Homo sapiens: one gene and its partners. The protein of the gene in region 5 purifies or fractionates together with the protein of the main gene of each other region. This does not show direct contact. Each region holds a gene or a part of one and is shown on either strand. Other genes may lie near its edges.

Region 1 (3,500 bases), on a different chromosome or scaffold from region 5:
CGGCCTCCCAAAGTTCTGGGATTACAGGTGTGAGCCACCACGCCCGGCCTTCTACAAAAAAGTTTTTAAAAATTAGCTGAGTGTGGTGGCATGCACCTATAGCCCTAGCTACTCAGGAGGCTGAGGCAGGAAGATCGTTTGAGCCCAGGAGGTCGAGGCTGCAGTGAGTTATGATTGTGCCACTGTACTCTGGAAGGCAGCAAGACTCTGTCTCTAAAAAAAATTTTTTTAAACCAACCAAAAAAAAAAAAACCCAACACCATCTTGGAGGTAGGGATGGTAGTATCAGACTTTTTAAGTGTTAGATATCTCAGAGGATGTGGTTTGAGTTTAAAAGTATCTGAACCTGGCCAGGCACAGTGGCTAGCACCTGTAATCCCAGCACTTTTGAGAGGCTGAGATGGGAGGATCACTTGAGGTCAGGAGTTTGAAACCAGCCTAGGCAACAAAGCAAGACCCTGGCTCTATAAAAAATAAAAATATTTACCTGGGTGCAGTGGTGCACACCCATAGTCCCAGCTACTCAGGAAGCTGAAGTGGGAAGATCACTTGAGCCCAGGAGTTCAAGGTCTCAGTGAGCCATGATAGTGCCACTGCACTCCAGCCTGTGCGACAGAGTGAGACCCTGTCTCAAAACAAAGAAACAAAAAAATCTGAATCTCAGCGTCAAAAAACCTAAGTAAACCTTGGCTTTACTATTTTTTATGTGATAAGTCATTTATCTTCTCTGGGACTTTATTTTCCTTATCTCTGAAATGAATTATAATACTAATGAATAATACATATGAAAATATTTTGTAAACCTAAAGCATTGTGTAACTAACTATAAGTATTTACTGTGCCATAAAAGGGTTCTGCCTTACTCTCTGGTAGGTTTCCTTCTAGAGAGATAATTAAGACTTTTGTGAAGTATTTTGTGAGCTCTCTCTGGGGCTAATGAACTCTTATCCACTGGGAAAACCTCCCTAGCAAACGATACTAGCCACTAGGCCTCTGATCCAGGAATGTTTGTAGTGGTGGTCTGGCAGAGAAAACCTTATTTCCACTTACCTCACAGTTCAATAACAACGTTATACACTGCACTGGTATAATATGGAGCTATGAAGGAAGTTAATTTGAATATACTTGCATGTGTAAAATGACCAAAGATCTATTCACATAGTTTGGGCAGTGGATTTAGCATTTGTATTCAATTCCATAAATACTTTTGAGGGCCTCTTCTATGGTAAGCATTCTGCTTAATACTTAAGAGAATTCAAAGATGAATAAGGCTTAGTCCTGACATTCAGGAACATAAAGTACATGGTACTTAGGTTTATGCAGGTTTAGAATATTTCAAGAATTCTGCTTTTTTTTCCAGTGGTTCCACTTTTTGCCTGCATAACAAATGAAGTATGTCAGTAATGCTTCTGAAGTCCAGTAGGTACTGTATGACTTCACTGGCTGTCCTGAGAGAGGGAGAAGAGTGAACAAGAGTAGCAAGAGTTGTTTGTTACTGGGTTTTAGGGTCTAAAGTCAGTGCACAGACAAAAACTGTGTTTGGTTAAAATTGCCCTTAAAGACCCTTAAATTACCTGCCAAGTACAGTTTTGTGTATGTAACTCTATATAGTAATTCTTATATAAGTTAAAGAACTGAGCTAAAATAAGGGAAAGAAAGAGAAAATCTATATGCAGATAATCAGGCATGACTTTTCTGCCTTTAGGATAATGGTCAGATCTTCAGTGGTGTTTAGGGGGTTAAGTAAAGAATTGAATAGTATTCCCACTTGTCTAGGTTCCTTCTTTTTTTTTTTTTTTCTTTTTTGAGTCAGGGTCTCGTTCTGTTGCTCAGATTGGAGTGCAGTGGTGCAGTCTCAGCCCACTGCAACTTCCAGCTCCTGGGTGCAAGTGATTCTCGTGCCTCAGCCTCCTGAGTAGTTGGGATTATAGGCATGCACCGCCATGCCTGGCTAATTTTTTGTATTTTAAGTAGAGACAGAGTTTCGCTATGGTGGCCAGGCTGGTCTTAAACTCCTGTCCCCAGGTGATCCACCCACCTGGGCCTCCCAAAGTGTTCTGGGATTACAGGTGTGAGCCACTGTGCCTGGCCTCTTTTTTTAAATTATTATTATTATTTTTGTTGTTGTTGTTGAGACAGGGTCTCACTCCTGTCGCCTGGGCTGGAGTGCAGTGGCACAATCATGGCTCATTGCAGCCTCGAATTCCCAGGCTCAGGTGATCCTTCCACCTCAGCCTCCCAACTACCTGGGAAAACAGGTGTGCACCACCACCCCTGGCTAATTTTTATATTTTTAGTAGAGACGGGGTTTCATCATGTTGCCCAGAATGGTCTTAAACTCCTGGGCTCGAGTGATCTGCCTGCCTCCGCTTCCCAAAGTGCTGTGATTACAGGCATGAGCCACTGCACCTGGCCAAGGATTGCTTTCATTATGATTTAATATGCACTAATAGACTTGTGAGGATAAAGTACAATAATACATGTGAAAACACTCAGCATAGACCCTGAAACATAGTTGCTGCTCAATAAATATTTGTTAGGATTTGAATCTGAATCTCTCCTAATTTGACAGTGGTATTTGAAATGTTGTAAGCAATTACTTAACCACACTGCTGTGTGTCTTTCCATACTGACATTTTCTGTGTGGGCCCACTGAGTTATGGATCATTCTTGTGCCTTTTGGCACTGGTCCCATTCTACAGGGGGATTAAGCTCCAAAGTGAATGCGTTATTACATGCACACCTGATGCTATTCCTCTGGGTTGTACCTTTGTTGGTATGACAACTTTTATTTTTGAAGTTTTAACACTTGAGATACTCTATTTTTAAAAATACTGCAGAATGATGGAAATGTTCTTTTTCTGTGGCTTATACTTTTGAAAGTCATATTATACTTCTTAATAAAGTAACATTTAAAATATTTTTTTAATAAACTATGACTCTGAGGTAGTCCTAACTTCTAGCCTCTCTTTTCCCAATATCCTTTTTGTTCCTGTTTTCGTTTTTTTAGAGACAGGGTCTTGCTCTGTCACCCATGCTGTAGTGCAGTGGCACAGTCATAACTCACTTGAACTTCTGGGGTCAATTGATCCTCTCCACTCAGCCTCCTAAGTAGCTGGGATTACAGGCATGTACCACCATGCCTAGAAATTTAAAAAAAAATTTTTTTTAGAGATGGGGGTCTCACTATGTTGCCCAGGCTAGTCTCAAACTCCTGGGCTCAAGCGATCTTCCCACCTTGGCTTCCCAAAGCTCTAGGATTACAGGCATGAGCCACTGTGACTGGCCCCCAATATCCTTTTTAAAATAAACTTTTAAAAGATTGGCATCTAAGACGCCTTTCTTTTTTTTTCACTTCTTGTGTATTCGTGTTCCTTTCCTTCTACGGCAGAAACCACAGTGTGTTGATGAATGAATAGTTTAAGCAAGGCTGCTAGAAGTTTCATTCCACTATAGAACTGGTTCTGTTTGTGGCCAAGAATTGCTGTCAGTACTAACCA
Region 2 (3,500 bases), on a different chromosome or scaffold from region 5:
GCAAAAACAAAAATGAAGTTCCCTCCTCAATCTAAGTTATGAAAAAAAGATTCACCCTTTAGTAACTTATTTTATTCCATTATAGGTGTGGGATGTATATATACTTCGTTATAACAAATCATAACAGGGCATAAGGGGTGGGTAGATAAAATTAAATAGTAGGGGGATAAAGCAGATGAACAGGTGGAAGGAAGAGAACAGAAGACAGACTACCACTAGACATGAACAAGGAATGACGGACAGGCAAAAAGAAATTGTGCACAATTCTTACTGTTGTGCAATAAGAAATCGTGCAACTTATCTATGTATGAAAATAGGGGAAGAGAATAACGTATGCAAGCAAGGATGTGAAGAAAATAGGGGAAATAAAATGCTGAGGAAATACGGTAGAAAGAAATCAGTAAGAAAGGTGACATAGGGTTCATAGCCCCCAAATTAAGACTGAATAATGGCCGGGCATGGTAGCTCCCGCCTATAATCTCAGCACTTTTGGGATAATTAAGTGGGAGATTGCTTGAAGCCAAAAGTTTGAGACTAGTCTGAGAAACAAAGTGAGACTCTGTCTCTACAAAAATTAAAAAATTAGCCAGGCATGGTGGCATGCGCTTACAGTCCCGGTTACTCAGGAGGCTGAGCTGGGAGGGCTGCTTGAGCCCAGGAGTTCGAGGCTGCAGTGAGCTATGCTTGCGCTACTGCACTCTAGTGTGGGCAACAGAACGAGACCTTGTCTAAAAAAAATAATAATAATAATAATAATAATAATACATGAAAAATCAAAATTGAAGACTGAATAAATTTTCAAAATTTCAATTTCTAACATGCTATTAGTAACATTTGCTTGCACAGACGCTCCATGGCTTTTTTTTTTGAGACAGAGTCTTGCTTTGTCGCCCAGGCTGGAGTGCACCGGCACGATCTCAACTCACTGGAACCTCTGCTTCCCGGGTTCAAGCGATTCTCCTGCCTCGGCCTCCTGAGTAGCTGGGATTACAGGCACACGCCACCACGCCCGGCTAATTTTTGTATTTTTAGTAGAGACAGGGTTTCACCGTGTTAGCCAAGCTGGTCTCAAGCTCCTGACCTCATGATCCGCCCGCCTTGGCCTCCCAAAGTGCTGAGGATTACAGGCATGAGCCACCGCACCTGGCCTGGCTTCTATTTTTCAATCCAAAATGATTCTCTAGGGGAAAGATACCTAATGTCCCCGGTCAAGCAAAATTTCCCATTCTTCTTGCTCAAAGATCAGAAAAGGAGGGGTAGAATTCCATGACTATCATTTTCAGTGACCTATTCATAGCATACATGGACTGAGGGTAGTTGTTTATTTTGACTACCTAGCACTTTTCCTTCCAATGGCGAACAGCTCACAGCCATCCCATGAGGTTGGAGTAGGACTATCAATCACAGTGCCCTGTCCTCCCCCTGGTCTCTGGGGTGAGCACAGACTTGACCACTCATGGTGCTCCTCACCTACTGCCTAGAGGCCCAATGAAAGGAGAAGGCACATGACCAGAATTCCTCTATCAGGCTCTCTTCCTCCAGGCCCAGTGCTGTAAGATCATGTGATCTGCAGGTGCCACTGACCATCTTTTCACCCCTAAAAAAAGCTGCCCTCAGGATGAAACCAATGTCAGACAGCATGTGAGAGTCAGTGAAGAGAGCCCCAATGACCATGTCTGAGCCTTGATTCCAGCCATGCCTAGATTTTTAAGTCACATGAGCAAATAAACTCCTCTTTGGCTTTGAGTTTGGGTTTCTGTTTCTTCCAACTAAAACAGCTGTGGCTGGTAAACTGACTAACACTGTTAAAGAGAGGTTTGGTAAGTCAATGTGCCAAACCTCTCATCCATAAATTACCCAGACCCTCTCTATTTACATCCTGTACCTCAGCTAATACCATAACTTGAAGTGATGAGTTTCAGAAATGTAAAATGTAAATGTTTAAAGTAGAAATTCATTTAAAATGGCATATATTGATTTGTTTCAAGATCTAAAACATATCCCTACTAAACTGAGATTTGATGTTACAAACTTCCACTATTCTGGATGTCAAAGAGTCTACTATAGGGCTGGGCACAGTGGTTCACGCCAGTAATCTCAGCACTTTGGGAGGCCGAGGCAGGCGTATCACATGGTCAGGAGTTCGAGACCCGCCTGGCCAGTACTGTGAAACCCCATCGCTACTAAAAATACAAAAATTAGCCAGGGGTGGTGGCACATGCCTGTAGTCCCAGCTACTCGGGAGGCTGAGGCAGAAGAATCGATTGAACACAGGAGGCAGAGGTTGCAGTGAGCTGAGATCACGCCACTGCACTCCAGCCTGGGTGACAGAGCGAGACTCTGTCTCAAAAAAAAAAAAAAAAAACCTCTACTGTATTCCCAGCTCACCTTCATCTTTCTAAACTAGAGAGTTCGACACCTTTAATCTGTCTAGCCTCTTCACTGCCCTGATCATTTTACTTCTCCTATTCTGAAATTTCTCTAGTTTCATGTACATTTGTCAAGAAGTAGAAACCCCAACCACACATGCAGGATTCCTGGCCAGGACTATATGTTTTTGTATATGTGACAAAAGATGGACAAAACCTATCTTTTTTGTGCATCCAGTCTCCCTCTAGCCCAGCATCTTGCCCACATTTTTGGCCACAGTAGTACATTAGGCCACAGGAGGTAGATACATGGTCCTCATGAACACTTAGTGCATTATGTACAATGCACTTCTCCCTTGATTTCAATCAAGTTTAGAACCATTATTTTGAAATCAAAAAATAATTACATCATCCCTAAGTTCTACAATTGGCAAAAAGCCTTTGCTGTACAAGGAGATATTTAACGCTAATGCCTGCTAGTTAAAAAGAATTCCAAGTGAGGAGGGCTTAGAAGAGAAATGGAGAATGCCTGAGGCATGAAGAGCCAGGGATAAGTTTCTGCAAAGTTTAGGTTGTATCAGCACAAACTCAGACTGATGTTACAACCAAGACAGATGGGGAAGAGGAACCGTTAAAGGGCAAAATTAACCAAAGGGCATTTCAGAAGGCATCAAAGGCAGACATCATTAATAAAGGCAAAGTGGTCAGTGTGTGAAGGAAAGATTAAACAAAAATCATCTAAACTCCTTTTATATCCACTTCCGCCTCCCACTGAAAATGAAACTCCACAGCCATGATCTCCAATGCCAGGCCTTTGTAATAAGTATCTCTATTGGTTGGGCTAAGGTGGAACCATAGCATTCATTTCGGAAAAACCAAAAAGAAAAAACTTCCTTCTGCCCTAATGAGCAAGCATAACTCCAGTAAACTCCCTGAAGATGTTGGGGAAGATAAGAGACAAAGCACAAGGGAACTTTTGGGGTGATGGAAATGTTCTGCATCTTGTTTGTGGCGGTGGTTACATGACAGAATATATGTGTCAAAACTCATCAAACTGTACACTTAAAATGAGGGACTTTTCAAGTATATTATACCTCAATAAAGTTGATGAAAGATTGGGAGTGGGGTGGT
Region 3 (3,500 bases), on a different chromosome or scaffold from region 5:
CTGTGTCTTCCACCAGAACCTTCCTGCTCCCAGGAAAGGCCTGGCCTGGCTTAATCAAATCTAATAAAAAAAATCAAAATAACAACCAGTAGGCAACCTGCTAGGCTGATCCAACTGGACATGCTGGTGGCTGAGCAGGTCCTGGAGGCCCTGTCTTGCCAGGTGTTAACTCCTTGTATGCTGGGTCCCAGTGGAGGAACCGGGGCCAGGAGAAAAGCTAGGGCAGGCGGTGGGGGCCCTGACAGAGCTCTGGCAGCCTGATTTACCAACTGGCCCAGAAGCATCTCAGTGTTTGACACGGGCATACTGGTGTGCATAGGCTGATATCAGCTGTTGGTCTGGCAGAGTCCATGCCCAAAAAACATTTGTGGACCTGAGCTGAGGGCCAGAATGGATGTGCTTGGTTTCTGACCCATGACATAGTAGCATACAGGGCATGTGGCTTTGCCAGCTGTGTTCCTATGGGCAAGGAACCATGGAGATCTGAGGTCAGAGGTCATCAATCCAGAGGTTCCCCACTGACAGCAATGAGAGACTGTGAGCTATTTCTATTATTTCAAAAATATGAAAGAACACTGTCTTACCTATTTTAAGAATCAGAAAAAAATCGATTGCTACTAAATGGTTAATTACTAGCCCTGATAAACTAGCTTCTGCCCTTCTTGCAGGAATCTAGCTTTGCAGTAATTGCACTGTACTGTTACCCTTTAGTTGTCTGCTTGGCCAAATGGACCAGAATCTTTATGAAAGTGGAAGCTGAGACTGGTCACAATTGTATTCCCAGAACCTAATTCAGCGTTGGGCACAGAGAGACTCTCAATACATATGTGCTGGATGTTTAAAAAGAAGAGTTGATGGCTACTTCAGAGTAAGTACAATTTAATTTGATCAGAAATATCTTTTGAGACTTATAAAATAAAATTGGTCATTGGGACCTGCTGATGAAACCATCATTTTTATTTTTTTAAATTTTTATTTATTTATTTATTTATTTTGTGATGGAGCCTCGCTCTGTCGCCCAAGCTGGAGTATAGTGGTGCAATCTCGGCTCACTACAACCTCCGCCTCCTGGGCTCAAGTGCTTCTCCTGCTTCAGCCTCCCGAGTAGCTGGGATTACAGGCATGCACCACCAAGCCCAGGTAATTTTTATACTTTTAGTAGAGACGGGGTTTCACCATGTTGGCCAGGCTGGTCTCGAACTTCTGACCTCAAGTGATCCACCCGTCTTGACCTCCCAAAGTGCTGGAATTGCAGGTGTGAGCCACTGCGCCCAACCAAAACCATTGATTTTAGAGATGGAAAAACTGAGGAACAGGGAAGGGCAGGCTCTTGTTCTAATATGATGTGCCGAGTGAAGATTTAGGGGTCACGTGACTGCACTGGACTTGCAGGTCCACCTCTCACTTGCTGTGTGACTGGACAAAACAAGTTGCCTGACCTCTCCGAACCCTAGATTTTTTAAGTGCAAAGTGGGGAGAACTGCACATCTGAGACCAGAAGTGGGTGTGAGGATTGGCCAGGATGACGTGTAGGTGGTGCCAGGTGATGGCTGTTCCCTCTACACCCCTCATGGCTCCTGGTCCAATGCCTTCCACTGTACCACATAGAGCTCTTTGTTAGTGGGATACAACCAGTCCTGAGGCCACATATTTCAACCCTTCTGTTTCAAGGCCCCCAGCCACAATGCAACAGAACAGAAAGGTACATACATACGCCACGGGGTCATTACTCCGTGTCCCCACGATGCTGAACTTCTTCACATATGAGTTTTCTTTCAGGGCTTCTGCATATGCCTTGAGGGTGGGGATGGGGATATTCTGCACAAAGAAAGGCAACAGAGAGAGTGACCAGAAGCCTCCTCTGGGACAGGCTGAGGCAGGTGGATTAGCCTGGCTACTCTCTGATTCCTGGCAAGTCTCTGGCCAAAAAGCTGAATGGGCAAAAGGTTTAGGCTTTGTCCCGGACGACTGAAATCTGGGGAGAACTTTCTGGTAAACAGATTTAGAAAATCCTCCCTGAAAATTTCAGATAAGACCTGTAACCTCTTTCTTTGTGCACTTGGGGGCCAGAGAAGAGGCAAAAATTAAGGCGTGTAGTATTGTGCAAAGAGCTAGGACTAGGGGTGTGAGAGGGGCTGGAACCTGGCCTTGGTCCCAATGATCGGCAATGTTCCTGACTTGCTAGGTGTCTCTGTGGAAGCCTCCTGCCCTCTCTGGCCCTGTTTCTGGAAAACAGGTAAGGGGGTTGCATATGATACTCTTTAAGAGACATCTACCCCAGGGGGTCTCTGCTCCAGCGGCACATCAGAGACTCCTGGGGAACTTTTACAAAATGGTGATGCTTGGGCCGGCCCAGAACAATAGAATCAGAATCTCTAGGGTCAGGCCTGGGCGTTGGTATATATTTTTTAATCTTCTCAGGTGAAAACCACTGATCTGGTCCAACAGGCTCACAGTGCAGAGGAGAAACTGAGGCCCAGAGGAGGCTGGGGCCTCACAGGGAGATTCCATCCCTCATGTGGCCCTGAGGCAGCATTCACTGCCAGTGGGCAGCATTCTGAATTGTGCCAATGTCTCCTACTGGGCACATGAAAGAAAACATGGCTGTGTTTTTACCAATCTCTCAGAGCGTCACTTTAGCTCCCATGGGAGCAGAGCATGGGGAGGCCAGGTGGGGGTGAACACTAGGGTGCAGGTTTCCAATCTGATGGTGCCGTGGGGCTGGCAGCTGCTTAAAATAAAGTGGAGAAGGAAAGAAAGTGGAGCAGGGGCATGGGGGGCTGGCTTCTAGTCTTACCCCCACCCCCCTCCCAGAACTAATCCACTGGTCTCTGGGCTCAGCAGGTGGGTAGAAAGCTGCATTTGTCTCTGAATTCTTCCTGCGGCGGCCTGTTCAGGGTGAGACTGCCTGTCCACCTGTCCCTCCCCTGCCCCGGGATCACATAAGGAAATGTGCACAGAGAAAAGGGCAGACAGCTTGGGATATCGCTTTGGACATTTTGGCCAACAGCTCCCTTCTGTGGCTGTAAAACAAGGCTGAATATGAACGTGATATAGCAGCAGCGATGGCACAGGGGAGGGGCCTGCCCAGGGCCTGTGTTACCCCCGAGCCTAGTGGGCACCGGACTTTTCCAGCCTTGAGATCCCATGCAGCAGCGTGTGTCTGACTCATGATTTTATCTCGGAGAATCTCTCAGTGTTTTGAATAACGTGGCAGGTTTCCAGATCAAAGCTGGGTTGGCCCGTGCTAAACATCTGGGCCTGATATCATCCTCAGAAAGAAACCAGGACTGCCAGATGCACTTGTTTACACTGCCCACCCCTCTTAAAGGCTCCCATTTGCAAAGGTTTTGTCCCTATTCCCAATGCAGAAACACCCAGAATCCAAACAGGACCCTGTTTACTCTGCACAACCAACCCTGGACCGTTTGCATTTGGGTGACATGGTTCCCCCTCCCCCAGCCACACACAGGTAAAGTGAAATAAATGGACCTTACCCG
Region 4 (3,500 bases), on a different chromosome or scaffold from region 5:
AGGCCCTGAACTTTGATTTTGCTGAGGTCCAGCGGGGGTGCCACATTCACCACAAAGGGGCTCTTGGGGACAGGGTCCCCGCCATAAGTCACTGTCACTGCCATGTTGCCCTGTTGGGTACAATGGTAGGTCAGAACTGGATATAAGGCAAGGTCCTACAACATCCTGGTGGTGAATATGGGCTCTGAAGCTCAGATCCACCATGAGAGTGAGGGCAGGAGGCAGGAAAGGCGTGGAGGATCCAGAACTGGTCCCATGGGACTGGAGGAGGGAGACCCAGGGCTCTGGCGGGCCGGCCGGGCGGTAGCATGGGAGGGGCAGAGCGCACCTGCTGGACAGCGGTGTACTTGACAGTGTAGGAGTAGTCATGGTTGTCTATGATCTCAAAGTCCCGCACAACCTCGCCCTTGGCTGTCCCTGCAAACTGCACATCCAGCTTGGCCTTGCCGGCTCCCTTGGTCAGCACCGTGAAGTGGGTGGGCTTCCCGACTTCCACACCTGAGGACCCACCCAGAGATGTGGTGAGGGCCTGGCAGCCACCTAACCCCAACCTCGAGCCAGTCCCAGCCCCTGCCCAGACACTCACCTGTGCGATTCAGCCCAGGGCCCTCGGCCTTGACTTTGCTGGCATCGTGGGATGGGTCCACCTTGATGTGGAAGGGGCTGGCGGGGATCTCCTGGATGTGGAGGAGGCTCAGTCAGGGCTCTCGAGGGGAACACACCCCTGCTCTCAGCTAGATGCTGGCTCAGGACACACCCAGGGGACCCAGCATGGACAGGGGCAGCCTCCAAAAGGGCCCCCTTTGCTTCCTCTGAGGCACCCTGCCTCACACAGGTAGGGCTCCACCATGTCTGCGGAATCATCCCTCCCTGTTCCCAGTGACAGCATCTCCAGCTGCCTTCTGGAGCTGGCAGGTGCATGTCGCTGTGAGTACCCAGGAGCTTAGGTACCTGGTTGGCAAACAGCACCATGATGGTGTAGCGGCCCGCCCCTGGTGGCGTGTACTTGACGGTGAAGGTGTCGTTGTCATTCTTGATGATGTCGAAGTCAATGTCAGCCTCTGCAGGGCCCACCACGCCTGGGGCGCACTTGATGCCGATGCTCACGTCGCCTGCAGAGAAGCGGGCACTGCTGTGAGTTGGGCTCAGCCCCCGACTCGACTCACCCCCGCCCCCTCCCAGACCCACCCCTTCCGGCTGGGCGCACCTTGCCCCGCCTCGCTGCAGTCCACCGTGAAGTAGGTGGGCTCATTGGCCTTGAGGCCTGTCTTCTCCACTCCGGGGCCGTACACCTTTACCCGCTCGGGGTGGCTGCCCTCGCCCACGTTCACCTGCGGGAGGGGTCGCAGCTCAGCGTGGTGCCCTCCCTCAAGGCTCATCCTCCTGCCCAGCGCACCCGGCCCAGCCTCAGTGGCACCAGCCCAAGCCTCAGTCCCAGCCTGAGCCCAGGGACAACAGGGACTCCAGCGAGGGTTCCGCCCTCCCTCAGGGACCCCTGGTGGTGGGCACGGGGCAGGCCGGGAGGACGCACCCGGAAGGGGCTCTTGGGCACGTTTACGCCTCCCCAGGAGATGATGATGGTGTGCTTAATGGGCTTGGTGGGCACGTAGGAGCAGCGGAAGGTGCCGTCGCCGTTGGGGATCACCTTGATGTCGATGGGACAGCCGTCGGCGTCCTGTGGGCATCACCCAAGCAAAGTTCATAGCTGTGGCCTCTGCAGAGCGCCCTCTGCTGGCCGCAGGTGAACCCAGCGCCTCCTTTCCCACCCCCAACACTGGCACTCCCGCCCCCACACCAGCCACTGAGGCCACCAGAGCCCAGGGCCACGTGCTCTGGCGGCCAGAGCCCACCCTGGGAGCCTGACTCAAGGCCATCTGTATGGCTTGCTCTCCCAGCCTAGGTTTCCTCAACTCTGAAATGTGTTGGACAGGAAGAGTGTGGGCTAAATTTATGTTCCTAAAACTGAATCATGAGCCTTTCAAAGAAGAATCACCCTCTTAGATCCTCAAGAATATGTTCATTAACCTCTAGGGGTCAATGGACACCAGTCTGAGAAACTGACTTGGGAAACCAGTGTCTTATTCAATGAAACAATCTTTCAATTACAAATTAGCACAAAAATGACTCTTTGGTAAAATACGTTTTTAGGTTATCATCGTTAAGAAAACACAAAATTTAAAATTTTCCATGGTACTGATGGGCCCATGAGTATCAGTCCTGCCTGATCTTCTGTGATGCTGTCATTTCCTGCTGGGAGGCCTCTGCCTCTGGCCTGGCCCTGCCTTCCAGGGTCCCTGCCATGGGTAGTAAGGGCAGCAGAGACTGGACAATGACCTACCTGGGCATAGAGCTTCAGGTCTCCCTTGCCAGCTGCACGAGCATCAATGGTGAACTCAGCGGGCTTGTCCACGATGCAGCCGGTAGGCTCCAGGCCAGGCCCAAAGGCCTTCACCTGTGCGGAGGGAAGAAGGCTGAGTTGGGGAGGGGAGGAGAACCAGCTTGCCCCACCCCCGGGGCAGGTGTGTGTGAGCTGGGACCACACCTTATCTGGGAAGCAGTCAGGTGGGGCGGGCAGGATGTGGGCAATGAAGGGTGAGTCTCGGATGTCCTCATCGTCACAGATGACGTGCACAGCGTACTCCCCAGGCTCCGTGGGCCAGTACCGCACATCGCAGGAGCCATCCCCCTTGTCGTCACATTCGATCTTGGCTTGTGAGGGCCCCTCGATGGAGAAGCCTGGGGCAAGGTGGGGGAGGGTCGGGGATCCAGCATCAGGCAAGACCCTTCCGTCCCCCAGCTCCCCTCTAGCTGCCCTCATGTCCTATCTCCCTGCTCACCCCAGCGCTCCCCAGCATGCGCACTGCACCCATTACCCACAGTGTCCCCTGCTGCCCTCCCCCGCAGCACTCCCTCCTCCTGCCCCCCAGCCACTTACCCAGTGTCCCCACCTCGGTGCCAATGGCTTCCACCACAAAATCGGCTGACTTGCCCACCTGGCCAGTCTCCAAACCAGGACCCCAGGCCCGGACCTTTTGCACTCCTGCCTCTGGGCTCACCTGTACCTCAAAGGGGCTGGGCAGAGAGGGAGCTGGTGTCCATGCCAGGAAGTGCCCCCCAAAGTCCCTCGCAGCCCAAACTCCATCTCCCCTCAAACTCCCTCGCAGCCCAGTGCCCCTCGTCCCTCCCTGTGATGGCCTAGACAGGACAGCATGGGGGGCGCAAGGTACTCACCTGCGAGGGATGGCGTAGCCGCCCCACGTGATGGTCACCACATACTTCCCAGGCACCACCGGGTAGTACTCGCACTCGAACACACCATCCCCAGCCTCCCGCACCTTCACTGGCTCCTCTGTGCCCTCTGAGGAGATGGGGGCAGGGTGGGGAAGAAGGCAGATCAATATCCTTGAAGTCCCAGCTCCTCAATCCCCTCAAGGAGCCATTGGGACCCCGACCCAGCCCGAGGGCAGTGCTGTAGTGAGCAGTGCTGCAACTCAGGGCAG
Region 5 (3,447 bases):
TGGAATACGAAATTAATATAACTGAGGTTTTCCCTCAAATCCTATGCTTTTAAGCTAATGATTCTACAGTCCTAGAACCTTTTTTTTTGTTTTTTTTTTTTTTTTTAAGAGACAAGTTTTACTTTGTTGACTAGGCTGGAGTACAGTGGTGCCATCAAAGCTCACTGCAGTCTCCAACTCCTGGGCTCAAGCAATCCTCCTGCCTCAGCCTCCCCTTTAGAGTAGCTACATCTATAGGCACATGCCCCCACACCCAGCTAACTTTTAAAGTTTTGTGGAGATGGGGTGTTGCTTTCTTGCCCAGGCTGGTCTTGAACTCCTGGCTTCAAGCAATCCTCCCACCTCAGCCTCTCAAAGTGAGAGGACTGCAGGCATGAGCCACTGTGCCCAGCCTGCAACTAACACTTATGGTTATCAATACTCCCTCCCTTAGTTAACTGTCTTAGGTATCATAATAGCCTTTCTTATATGTATCAAAACTCATACTGAACAACAAGTTCTCAGTTGCAAAAGGAGATTTATTGTTTGCACCTGTCTATAAGTACTTGCCCACAAGTTAAACAAACGCACGCATAAGTCCACAGGGGCTCCTTTTCATGGCATATCTCATTTACTCCCTCACTCTCTCAGCATCTGTTGAGCATCTACTGCCCTCTAAGCATTGCACACATGCATTAGGGACTATTTTCCTTGGGGAGAAGATGGTGGGGTAGAAATTGCATGAATTTGGAGTCAGGCACTCCCAGCCTCTGCCCCTTCCTGGCTGTGTGTCCCTGACCCACGTTACCTAACCTCTCTGAGCATCCACTGCTTCCTCTGTAAAACAGAATCATATCTGCGGTGAGGATTAACTTGGTAATACATGTGAAACCCTTGCAACTAGGAATATATCCTCCAATTCCAACAATAACAACCACCATTTATTTATTAGGTAGTGTGCCAGGCAGAAGGGGATTTGCATGCATTATCAGTGAATTCACCAATGACCCCATGAAGTAGGTAGCATTGTCAGTTTGTTCTGATCCAATTTCAAGAGCAAGAGGGAGGTCTACCACCACCACCACCACCACCACCACAATGTACCATTTGTGGGATAATTTGTCTTTTTAAAATCTTTTATTTTTATTTGTTTTTGAGACACGGTCTTGCTCTGTTGCATAAGCTGGAGTGCAGTGGTTCGATCTCGGCTCACTGCAACCTCTGCCTCCCAGGCTCAGGAGATCCTTCACCTCAGCCACTCAAGTAGCTGGGACCACTGGCACACCACCATGCCTGGCTAATTTTTGTATTATTGGTAGAGATGGGGGTTCACCATGTTACCTGGGCTGGTCTTGAACTCCTGGGCTCAAGCAATCTGCCTGCCTCGGCCTCTCAAGGTGTTGGGATAACAGGCGTCAAGCCACCGTGCCCAAATTTGTCTTTTAGAGTCGGATGCTGGAGCATCCTCTCCTAGGCTGGGAGGTTGCTAATGTAAATGCCACACTGTATTTGCTGAAGTGGTTTACAAAAAAAAGGAATTTCAGGTTGAAAATGGACTCTTAACAAGGTACTTCAGGATGCACAATTTCCATTTAAAGGCAAAATATGGTGAATATGATCTACGGGAAAGAAACACACCTTGTGTCACCCCAATAGCCTTTGGAGCAAGAAGTGGGTCCAATTTCCCAGGGGCTGGGGGCTTCATCTCCAACTCATCTGCTTCCTTGCTGAAACCACAAGGGAGATCAAGATGCATCTTTGTCTGGCTTCTTTCTACTTCTGGGGTGGGAGAGACAGCTCTGGGAAGGGTTTCAGATGATGAGGGAGCAGTTCCTATCTGGCTTCATCAATTTTTAGATGTACCTGTAGGCAAATTACTTCCACTCTGTGGGCCTGTTTTTTCATAAACTGAGAATAATGCCAACAAGGCAGTTAATAGAAGGATCCCAAGGTAGTCCAAAGAGTTCAAGAAAGTTAGAAAAAGGACTCTCCTCTACCTTTTTTTTTCTTTTTTTTGTTTTTTGAGACAGAGTCTCACTCTGTCACCCAGGCTGGAGTGCAGTGGTGCAATCTTGGCTCACAGCAACCTCCACCTCCTGGGTTCAAGCGATTCTCCTGCCTCAGCCTCCCGAGTAGCTGGGATTACAGGCGCCCGCCATCATGCCCGGCTAATTTTTGTATTTTTAGTTGAGACGGCGTTTCACCATGTGAGCCAGGCTGGTCTTGAGCTTCTGACCTCAAGTGATCCACCTGCCTTGGCTTCCCAAAGTGCTGGGATTACAGGCGTGAGCCACCGTGCCCAACCCTCTCACCTCTTTTGAGATATGCATCACAGACCACAATGCCCAGTTTGGAGAATTCCAGGGGATTCTTTATGTAAAGCACATAGAAGGTATGTGATAAACATAACCTGGTTTTAGGAGGCAAGGATGCGTGGGTGGGTGGTGTTTCCTGGGTGGAGCTCTCCTTTAGAAAGGGCTTCTTTACCATAAAGTGAATCCCCCTAAGTTCCAAGCCGTCCTCTGTGCTGCCTTTGGAGCCTCTCCCGAACATCTTGCCAAGAGGGGGTTCCCCAGGCATAAACACAAACAAGCATGCGGATCCTCCCCAGCAAAACCACCTCCACTGTAGATGTGATCTGGGATCGTGCCCAACCGCGAGACAGTTACTCTGAGGAGGAAATCAGGGCAAAAGCAGCCCATTACAGGAATATTGTCCTAGGGCCTTGAACAAATAAGTATCGGATGAGTTTTATGAACACACATTGTTAGGGTAGTGTGGGTGTTGTCTCCAAAAAGCATGTGTGCAATGTAATTAGCAAAGCGTGAGCCTACTCAGTTGCATCATATTCTTATTTTGATGGTTTCTAAACTTGGCCATCAGAATTCCCAGGGAATCTCAGAAACATACAGATTGCTGGGGCCCATCCCACCCCATTCATGGCTGGAACCCAAAGAGAATTTGTTAGCTATCTTCAACCTTGCCAGAGAACAGTGTCTTGAACCATGACCCTCAGTGATTTGTTTTTAAAACATTTTACAGAGAGGGCTGCATTATAGCTTGATAACACTATTAGAAGCATCCTGTGGCTTGGCGCGGTGGCTCATGCCTATAATCCCAGCACTTTGGGAGGCCAAGGCGGGTGGATTACCTGAGGTTGGGAGTTTGAGAACAGCCTGACCAACATGGAGAAACCCCATTTCGATTAAAAATACAAAATTAGCCAGGCGTGGTGGCACATGCCTGTATTCCCAGCTACTCGGGAGGCTGAGGCAGGAAAATCACTTGAACCCAGGAGGCAGAGGTTGCGGTGAGCTGAGATCACACCATTGCACTCCAGTCTGGGCAACAAGAGCTAAACTCCATCTCAAAAGAAAAAAAAAAAAGAAGCATCCCACTAAACTTTTAATATTCAATAAGCAATTCTTAACCAAAATTTGGCACCCCATAGAGATTTACCTAGAAGGG
Region 6 (4,060 bases), on a different chromosome or scaffold from region 5:
GGATGACAGGGCAAGACTCCATCTCAGAGAAAAAAAAAAAAAAGAATAAATAAACTCTGAGATTTATTTAAGTTATAACACTTCCCAATATTTTTAGATATTTTAATATATAAAAATGAAACTACACAGAGGTTAGTAAACTCTTCTTAAAACTGGTATTTTACATGTCAAAAATGGAGTCTCAACTATCAACAGAAAGTTAAAATGGGTTTTTTTCAATGTTTGGATGTTTGCATTTGTTCAAGCCTCACATGGTCAAAGTCTTTAAAACTTTCTAAAGAAAGCTACATTTTGGAACCCAGATACAGCCCAGTTGTCTAAACAATGGGCTACATGATACACCACAGACTCCAGGCAAAGTCACAACAGGATGAGAACAGAGCCTTCAGCCTCTCTCAGATTTCCTGGCCACTGTTATTTTAAAACTTGACCACGTAAACATAAACAGGGAAAAATCCATTTCAGATAATCCCTACTGGTTATGATTTACGATCTTTTGTTTTTAATGCAATATTTAATTGCATTAATTTACATTAAATATTGTAATTGTTCATAACATTTTTCTTGCTCATGTTTCTAGGCACTAACCAAGAATATATATGTATATCATATATAGTTTTATATATTATACAGTTTTTAATCATGATCTTTCCTTAAATGTCATTCATACTTCTGTTACATTTACAATGGTTTCTGAAAACAAAAATGTAACTTACAAAGATGAGAGAATGATAAACAGCATGTCACACAAAAAATACAAAAATAATGGGCAAATGTACATAAGACTAAAATGACTTCTGTTTACCAAAGTGGATGCAATTCCTGCGTAACGTAAAATACTCAAAATGAGCTGTATATATAAAAGTCTGTGAGCTATTTTGAACGGCAGCATGGTTTCAAGCTCTGGCTATAGCCCACTTTGTAACATTTGTGGCGGTTTCTACAATTAAGGAAAAAAGGCACAAAGGTAATTTTTTCACTAAACATTCTCCAGTTTGAAAACCACAACCCAAGACATCTAGGAAGTTCAGTTAATTTGTACAGAAATGCTGTTTTGCCGCCAACCTTTGTACCATGACCACTACCAGTCCAAGTTCAAGATTCACGTTTTATGGTGTGAAGATAAGTTTCAGCTAAATCTTAAGAATGTTAATTTTCAGGCCAGGCGCGGGGGCTCAAGCCTGTAATCCTAGCACTTTGGGAGGCCGAGGCGAGTGGATCACCTGAGGTCAGGAGTTCGAGACCAGCCTGGCCAACATGGCGAATCCCCGTCTCTGCTAAAAATACAAAAATTAGCTGGGCAGTGGCGCGCCCTTACTGTAGTCCCAGCCACTCGGGCGGCTGAGGGAGGTCAATCGTTCGAACCTGGGAGGTGGAGGTTGCAGTGAGCTGACAGAGCGAGGCTCTGTCTCAAAAAAAAAAAAGTTAATTTTTAAAACTCTCAAGTTCTGACTTTATTTAGATAGACTGCATCTATACCACCAGAGCATTAAAAAAAAAAAAAAAATGAGGCTTATTTAGCCCGTACAGTTAAGTCTATTAAGTTAGGGCAGTGCTCCTCATTTCTCACTAATACTTGTAAATCAGGATTTAAGCATCCCTCCACCACATCACTTTATGCCAGGTAAGATGTAAAGAATATTTGGCCAGGCGCAGTGGCTCACGCCTGTAATCCCAGCACTTTGGGAGACCGAGGCGGATGGATCAAGAGGTCAGGATTTCAAGACCTGCCTGGCCAAGATGGTGAAACCCCGTCTCTACTAAAAATACAAAAAAATTAGCCAGGCGTGGTGGTGGGCGCTTGTAATCCCAGCTACTCGGGAGGCTGTGGCAGAGAATTGCTTGAACCCGCGAGGGGGAGGGTGCAGTGAGAGGAAATCGCACCACCGCACTCCAGCCTGGGCGACAGACCAAGGCTCCGTCTCAAAAAAAAAAAAAAAAGGTAATGAATTTTTTAAACTGTATGGAAATACTTTTAAACACGGATGTTCTAGCAATAACCCCATCAAATTGTGTCCTACTTAAAATTAAAATCCCAGAGTTTAAGCATTTTAATCGTTTTAGGGAGTTTTTGGAAATTAACAAAAAAAGTTCTTGTTCAGTAGCATATCCGTAAATTAACATACTCAAGGTACTGGACCACCTGGAGACTAAGAATAAGGCTTTAGAAAGTCTCGATCTGGTCTCCTACATGATTAGACTATTAATGGTATCATTTGATCTTCACATCTCAGAGCAAACTGCGCTCCCCCTGCACTGAATTTTAAGCGTGTTTACAAAAGAGAAAATAAAACTATCACGGAGTGTCCAAGTCCGAGTTAGGCACCTGAGTGCTCTGCTTCTACCTGGGAGCCAGGGAAGAAACACAAAGGGACCTTGGTGATGAGAACCCATGAAAGGAGACTGATTGTCTTTCGGTGGAAACGAGAACCACCGCCGGCCCCACTGCTGCCCAGGGCCCACCCATCCATCACCTGCTTCTCCCACCCGCGTCCTCGGGCAGTGAACAGAAGCGTCGGCCCCGGAGCTGCTCGAGGAGGCCCGGGAGCAAGGCCGGGCCAGGGAACGCGAGACCCCGGCGCCGACGCCCCGCAGTGGGTCTCTGGGACACTCACCGGTGCGGGAGCGAAGGCAGGTGCGCGGCGGCGGGGCTACCTGTACGGGTGAAGCTGGAGGGCGCGGTGAGAAGTGATGAGGGCCAGTGAAGAGGGCGACGACGCGGACGGGCACCAGGACAGGGCGGCGACAGCGGCCGGGCTGAGGCTGGCTTCCTGCTCGGACAGATCCCGAGTCGGTCTCCGCCCGCCGGCCGGCGCCCCGCCGAGTCCCCGGCACTGCGGCGTGCACGTCACGGCTACGGAGCGCCCGAAGGGGCGGGGGCGCCGGGGCCGCGGCAGGCCGTCGGGCGCGCGCTCCGGGAGGGAGGGCGCGCTCCGGGAGAGGGCGCGCGACCCCCGGGGTCGCCCCGCCCGCGGCGCAGAGCCTCTGGGGCGAGGGTAGGCGCCCTGCAGCGCAGAGAGGGGCTGCCCCTGGACAAGCCGGGAGTTCTTGTTCTTCCCATGGCGAAACGGCCTCTTTTGCCGCGGTAGTTGTTTCCAGTCCCGGCAAAGCAGGTCCTGTCCGGCTGGATACTGTGACTGTGCAGTCTACCAACAGCGAGAATCAGTTCAAGCAGGGAGAAAGTTGTTCGGAGAAGGGGCGAGGAGTCCGGGGCTCCGCGCGGGGGACCCAGGAACCAGGTGTCCGCGCTTGGGCGGCAGCGAGGCTGCGTGGCGGTTGCGGCAAGAACCACTGCTCACTCGGCCCCGGATCGGGCCGGCTTGGACTGGGCTGCCCTGCATAGGGGGGAACCTTCCCGCACAACTAAGTTGCCATTCGGTCTTTGGAGGAGGGGGCTTGGGATGGGAATTTCGCACCCCTTTGCCTCTTCCCGCTCCTACCCTCGCCGACGCATTTACTTTATTTAGAGCCCCTACCTTCTCAGTCGTTTAAATGTTACTGTTTTTATTAGTGACATACCTGTGAGTCACCTTTTAAAATATGAAGTACCTATGCAAATTTGAATTATATGGTAAAAACACATCACCTTTACAATGAAAACAGCTTCTTTTAAGGCAACGAAATAACAATTGACTATAATGCTAAATGTATCCGCTGAAAAAAGCCTACTTGCACATGAGAATTACACGTTTTTCTGCAACATTTATATGTAGCGACTTGGAAACTTCTGGAAATCTAGAAGATTCTGACGAGGAGACAAATTTCTGATACTTAAAGACTCCATGGTTCTGTGGGTGGAGAAATAAAAACTCTAAGTTCTGATAAGATGTTTTAGAATTCAACTAAAACAATAAAATATTAAGAGTAAAATAGGGAAGTAAGAAAGAGGAAGAGAAACAAAGAAAGGAAATAATTTACAGCAATCTCAGAAATTTAATTCCAAATTGCCAGAAGGTAAGTCTTAAGTATATAAAACTAAATTTCAAAACAAACTGAAAAAAAGAGGGAGAAGATGAAGATGGCTGTCTCAGTTCACACTGCTCTGACTCAATTTTGGATT
Region 7 (3,500 bases), on a different chromosome or scaffold from region 5:
ACTCTATTTGGCAAAAGAGATTCTGCTTCAGAATTTAAAAATCTTTACCACCCTGCCAAGGAACAGAATGAAGGTAGTAACGTTTTCAAAAAATTTTACCATTGTACTAGATTTTGAATGCTGAGCCATCTCAGAAGAAACCAGCCTGAATGTCACTTGACCAATGAACTCTCATGTCCATCCTAGAGGCAGCAACTAACTGGCCAGCAGACTGGTACACAATGACCTGAATGCAACTACACCAAAAATCCAATTACAAAATGCCCTGCTAACTCTCAGGACTCTCTTTTTTTTTGAGTCGGAGTTTCGCTCTTTTTGCCCAGGCTGGAGTGCAATGGTGCAATCTTGGCTCACTGCAACCTCTGCCTCCCAGGTTCAAGAGATTCTCCTGCCTCAGCCTCCCAAGTGGCTGGGATTACAGGTGCCTGCCACCACACCCGGCTAATTTTTTGTATTTTTTTAGTAGAGACGGGGTTTCACCATGTTGGCCAGGATGGTCTTGACCTCTTGACCTCGTGATCCGCCCACCTCGGCCTCCCACAGTGCTGGGATTACAGGCGTCAGCCACCGCGCCTGGCCTCTCATGACTCTTCTTAAGATGAGCTTCTTGTGAGGGAAGTACTCTATGGTGACCCATCCAAACTCAGGCTCAGTCTGTCAGTTCAACAACTCTACCTGTTCATGCGTTATCTACTACCAAATAATTGGCTATACAGTCCATTCTGAAAAGACCTTAGGACCAAACCAAGAGCAGCCACCTTACTAGAAATCTGAGGAAACACAAGAGGTTAGGGTTAGGAAACCTGACAAAGTTTTAGGTCAAAGACCCCACAGTAGGAAGGATGCATAACATTCATTCATAGTTAGTATGTTTAATTCTCAACTTACCCTTTAGTTCTGTCCTGCAAAACTAAACCACTGAGAAAAAAAATATCAGGCTGGGCGCGGTGGCTCATGCCTGCAATCCCAGCACTTTGGGAGGCTGAGGCGGGCGGATCATGAGGTCAGGAGATTGAGACCATCCTGGCCAACACGGTGAAACCCCATCTCTACTAAAAGTACAAAAATTAGCTGGGCGTGGTGGCGCGTGCCTGTAATCCCAGCTACTTGGGAGGCTGAGGCAGGAAAATTGCTTGAACCCAGGAAGCGGAGGTTGCAGTGAGCTGAGTTCGTGCCACTACACTCCAGCCTGGCGACAGAGCAAGACTCCACCTCAAAACAACAGCAGCAGCAACAAAAAATATTCACTGAGTTTTGTGGGAGTTGTCTATTAAATCTTCAACAAATTCTAACGTCAAGGCTGGGCATGGTGGCTCATGCCTGTAATACCAGCACTTTGGGAGGCCGAGATGGGCATCACCTGAGGTCGGCAGTTTGAGACCAGCCTGACCAACATGGAGAAACCCCGTCTCTACTAAAAATACAAAATTAGCTGGGTGTGGTGGTGCATGCCTACAATCCCAGCTACTCAGGAGGTTGAGGCAGGAGAATTGCTTGAACCTGGGAGGCGGAGGTTGCAGTGAGCCGAGATCACTCCATTGCACTCCAGCCTGGGCAACAAGAGAGAAACTCCGTCTCGAAAAAAAAAAAAAAAATTCTAACATCAGTAGAGTTGCTAGATCTCTTTCCTACGCTCATGGTATGTTTGGGTGCAAAGGTATAAGTCGCCATGCATGGGTTTCCCCCAAGATGTCTGCTCCATACCTGCATGAACACCTTTCCAATGACCACATCGTCGTCATCCTTAAACACTGTGCTGAAGACTACTGTGACTCTGTCCTTTTTAGACTCAACATACCTGAGAGGAACAAAATCCATGAGGATAAGTACAGAATCAGAATGGGGTTTTGTCAATAACTTGATCTACAAGTACATCAGAAGGCTAAAGTCATAAATCTCTTAAATCATAATATAAAGGTGTGCCAAATGAGATGATATTTATGGTCAACAAAGTCAGTGCACAAAATGAATGCCCTAAGAGAGGCAGCAGATGGAAATTATCAGAAGTAGATTTTATTGACTTGTAAATATAACATGGACCTATGGTCACCCTGCCTGCTGATTATCCAGGCTATACTCTTAAACATGACTCAGAACAGTGGTGCCTTAAAGGAAAGCACTGGATTCTCTTTCCACCATCTGTCAGCTCTCAGTATCTGGAGAGTAGGAGGAGTGGCTGATTTCTGCCCTATCATCTACTTCCTGGCTTAAGACATTTTATGAGAAAAACATTTTCACGCAATACAGCTGAAAGTTTGACCAAGCCATATTTCTTTCAGTAAGTGCCATGGTGGTGTAGCAGCCATATCCAGGCTTCAGGACCAAATTCTATACTCACATGGTCTCATCATCCCTATAATGGATAACTGCCCTGTTCTCTCCTTCCTTGCCCTCTTCTTGGAATTGGAAGTATTTTTCAAAGACAGAGGCAAAACAATTTCGCTTCAACATGCCAGCTTGATGCACAATGGAATCCTTGGATGCCGGAAGATTTTCAAGGTCATATAGCAAAGAGACATTGTATCCTGGAGGGAAAGAAAAAACAAGAAACAAAAAACAACCCAGCAGTTACATTTAAAAAAAAAAAAAAAAAAAAAAGCAGCATACTATCTATACCAAGTAAACAGAGACTAGAGGCAACTAAAAAAATCTTTTTTCAGGTTCTATTGACATTTTGTCTCATTATCTGTACTTTTAACCTGGGTAGAATATAGTCTATTTCCATCTATCTCACAGGGCAAAATGAGGTGAAATAAAATCTTAATTTTTATAAGATTCTTGTAAATATATATAATTAATGTTAATCAAAAATTTGAATCAGTATCAAAGATGACTAATTACAAATATGTAATGGGAGAAAGTCAGAACCTGGGAACTCTGATTGGAAATGTACCCTTCTAGACACAGTTGTAAAGGAGCCACATATATTTCTCTGATAGTTTAATGTGCCAAGTATCAGTATGGCCAGCAAATGGGTAGCTTTGTGATAATAAGATAAACCCTTCTACGTGCCACTGCAAACTCTTTATGAGGTGGCAGGGTAGAAAAACCAACTACCTGTTCATACATATACCTCCCCAATAGCTTTTATTGGTATATATTGTACAATTTTTAAAACATTTTACTTCATTTGATCTCCATAACCACCTTTGAAGTCTGCAGGCTAGATAAGGTTACTGTTTTGCAGAGGGAAAAGGAGATTCAAAGAAGTGACGTGACTTGCCAAATGCAGCATGACACATAAGTGTAGGGCACTCTATTTTGAGTCGAACAGAACTGGGTCCAAATCCTAGTCTTGTCATTTTGTGACCTTAAAAAAACTGCTGGGTGTGGTGGCTCACACCTGTAATCCCAGCATTTTGGGAGGCCAAGGTGGGCAGATCACCTGAGGTCAGGAGTTTTGAGAGCAGTCTGGCCAACATGGCAAAACCCTGTCTCTACTAAAATCACAAATATTAGCCAGGCATGGTGGCGGGCGCCTGTAATCCTAGCTACTTGGG

What was found.
Region 1: the proteins of SSH1 (region 5) and PSMB2 purify together in Homo sapiens (affinity purification with mass spectrometry, with the first as the bait; one large-scale study listed by BioGRID). This does not show direct contact.
Region 2: the proteins of SSH1 (region 5) and MYO5A purify together in Homo sapiens (affinity purification with mass spectrometry; one large-scale study listed by BioGRID and IntAct). This does not show direct contact.
Region 3: the proteins of SSH1 (region 5) and TMOD1 purify together in Homo sapiens (co-immunoprecipitation; one large-scale study listed by IntAct). This does not show direct contact.
Region 4: the proteins of SSH1 (region 5) and FLNC purify together in Homo sapiens (affinity purification with mass spectrometry, with the first as the bait; one large-scale study listed by BioGRID). This does not show direct contact.
Region 6: the proteins of SSH1 (region 5) and MYO6 purify together in Homo sapiens (co-immunoprecipitation; one large-scale study listed by IntAct). This does not show direct contact.
Region 7: the proteins of SSH1 (region 5) and ARPC2 purify together in Homo sapiens (co-immunoprecipitation; one study listed by IntAct). This does not show direct contact.

Annotation. Positions count from the first base shown.
Region 1 is NC_000001.11:35,631,527-35,635,026, reverse strand, and holds part of PSMB2 (proteasome subunit beta type-2), read left to right. Parts: intron 1-3,489; exon of another isoform or gene 3,490-3,500. UniProt on the Homo sapiens protein: Non-catalytic component of the 20S core proteasome complex involved in the proteolytic degradation of most intracellular proteins. This complex plays numerous essential roles within the cell by associating with different regulatory particles.
Region 2 is NC_000015.10:52,518,881-52,522,380, forward strand, and holds part of MYO5A (unconventional myosin-Va), read right to left. Parts: intron 1-3,500. UniProt on the Homo sapiens protein: Processive actin-based motor that can move in large steps approximating the 36-nm pseudo-repeat of the actin filament. Can hydrolyze ATP in the presence of actin, which is essential for its function as a motor protein. Involved in melanosome transport.
Region 3 is NC_000009.12:97,564,166-97,567,665, reverse strand, and holds part of TMOD1 (tropomodulin-1), read right to left. Parts: coding exon 3,498-3,500; intron 1,819-3,497; coding exon 1,711-1,818; intron 1-1,710. UniProt on the Homo sapiens protein: Blocks the elongation and depolymerization of the actin filaments at the pointed end. The Tmod/TM complex contributes to the formation of the short actin protofilament, which in turn defines the geometry of the membrane skeleton.
Region 4 is NC_000007.14:128,840,406-128,843,905, reverse strand, and holds part of FLNC (filamin-C), read right to left. Parts: intron 3,359-3,500; coding exon 3,232-3,358; intron 3,073-3,231; coding exon 2,936-3,072; intron 2,737-2,935; coding exon 2,543-2,736; intron 2,453-2,542; coding exon 2,339-2,452; intron 1,676-2,338; coding exon 1,532-1,675; intron 1,332-1,531; coding exon 1,208-1,331; intron 1,113-1,207; coding exon 952-1,112; intron 678-951; coding exon 587-677; intron 499-586; coding exon 329-498; intron 111-328; coding exon 1-110.
Region 5 is NC_000012.12:108,777,691-108,781,137, forward strand, and holds the end of SSH1 (protein phosphatase Slingshot homolog 1), read right to left. Parts: 3' UTR 501-3,447; downstream 1-500. UniProt on the Homo sapiens protein: Protein phosphatase which regulates actin filament dynamics. Dephosphorylates and activates the actin binding/depolymerizing factor cofilin, which subsequently binds to actin filaments and stimulates their disassembly.
Region 6 is NC_000006.12:75,747,979-75,752,038, reverse strand, and holds the start of MYO6 (unconventional myosin-VI), read right to left. Parts: upstream 2,801-4,060; 5' UTR 2,616-2,800; intron 1-2,615. UniProt on the Homo sapiens protein: Myosins are actin-based motor molecules with ATPase activity. Unconventional myosins serve in intracellular movements. Myosin 6 is a reverse-direction motor protein that moves towards the minus-end of actin filaments.
Region 7 is NC_000002.12:218,237,689-218,241,188, reverse strand, and holds part of ARPC2 (actin-related protein 2/3 complex subunit 2), read right to left. Parts: intron 2,526-3,500; coding exon 2,339-2,525; intron 1,799-2,338; coding exon 1,705-1,798; intron 1-1,704. UniProt on the Homo sapiens protein: Actin-binding component of the Arp2/3 complex, a multiprotein complex that mediates actin polymerization upon stimulation by nucleation-promoting factor (NPF).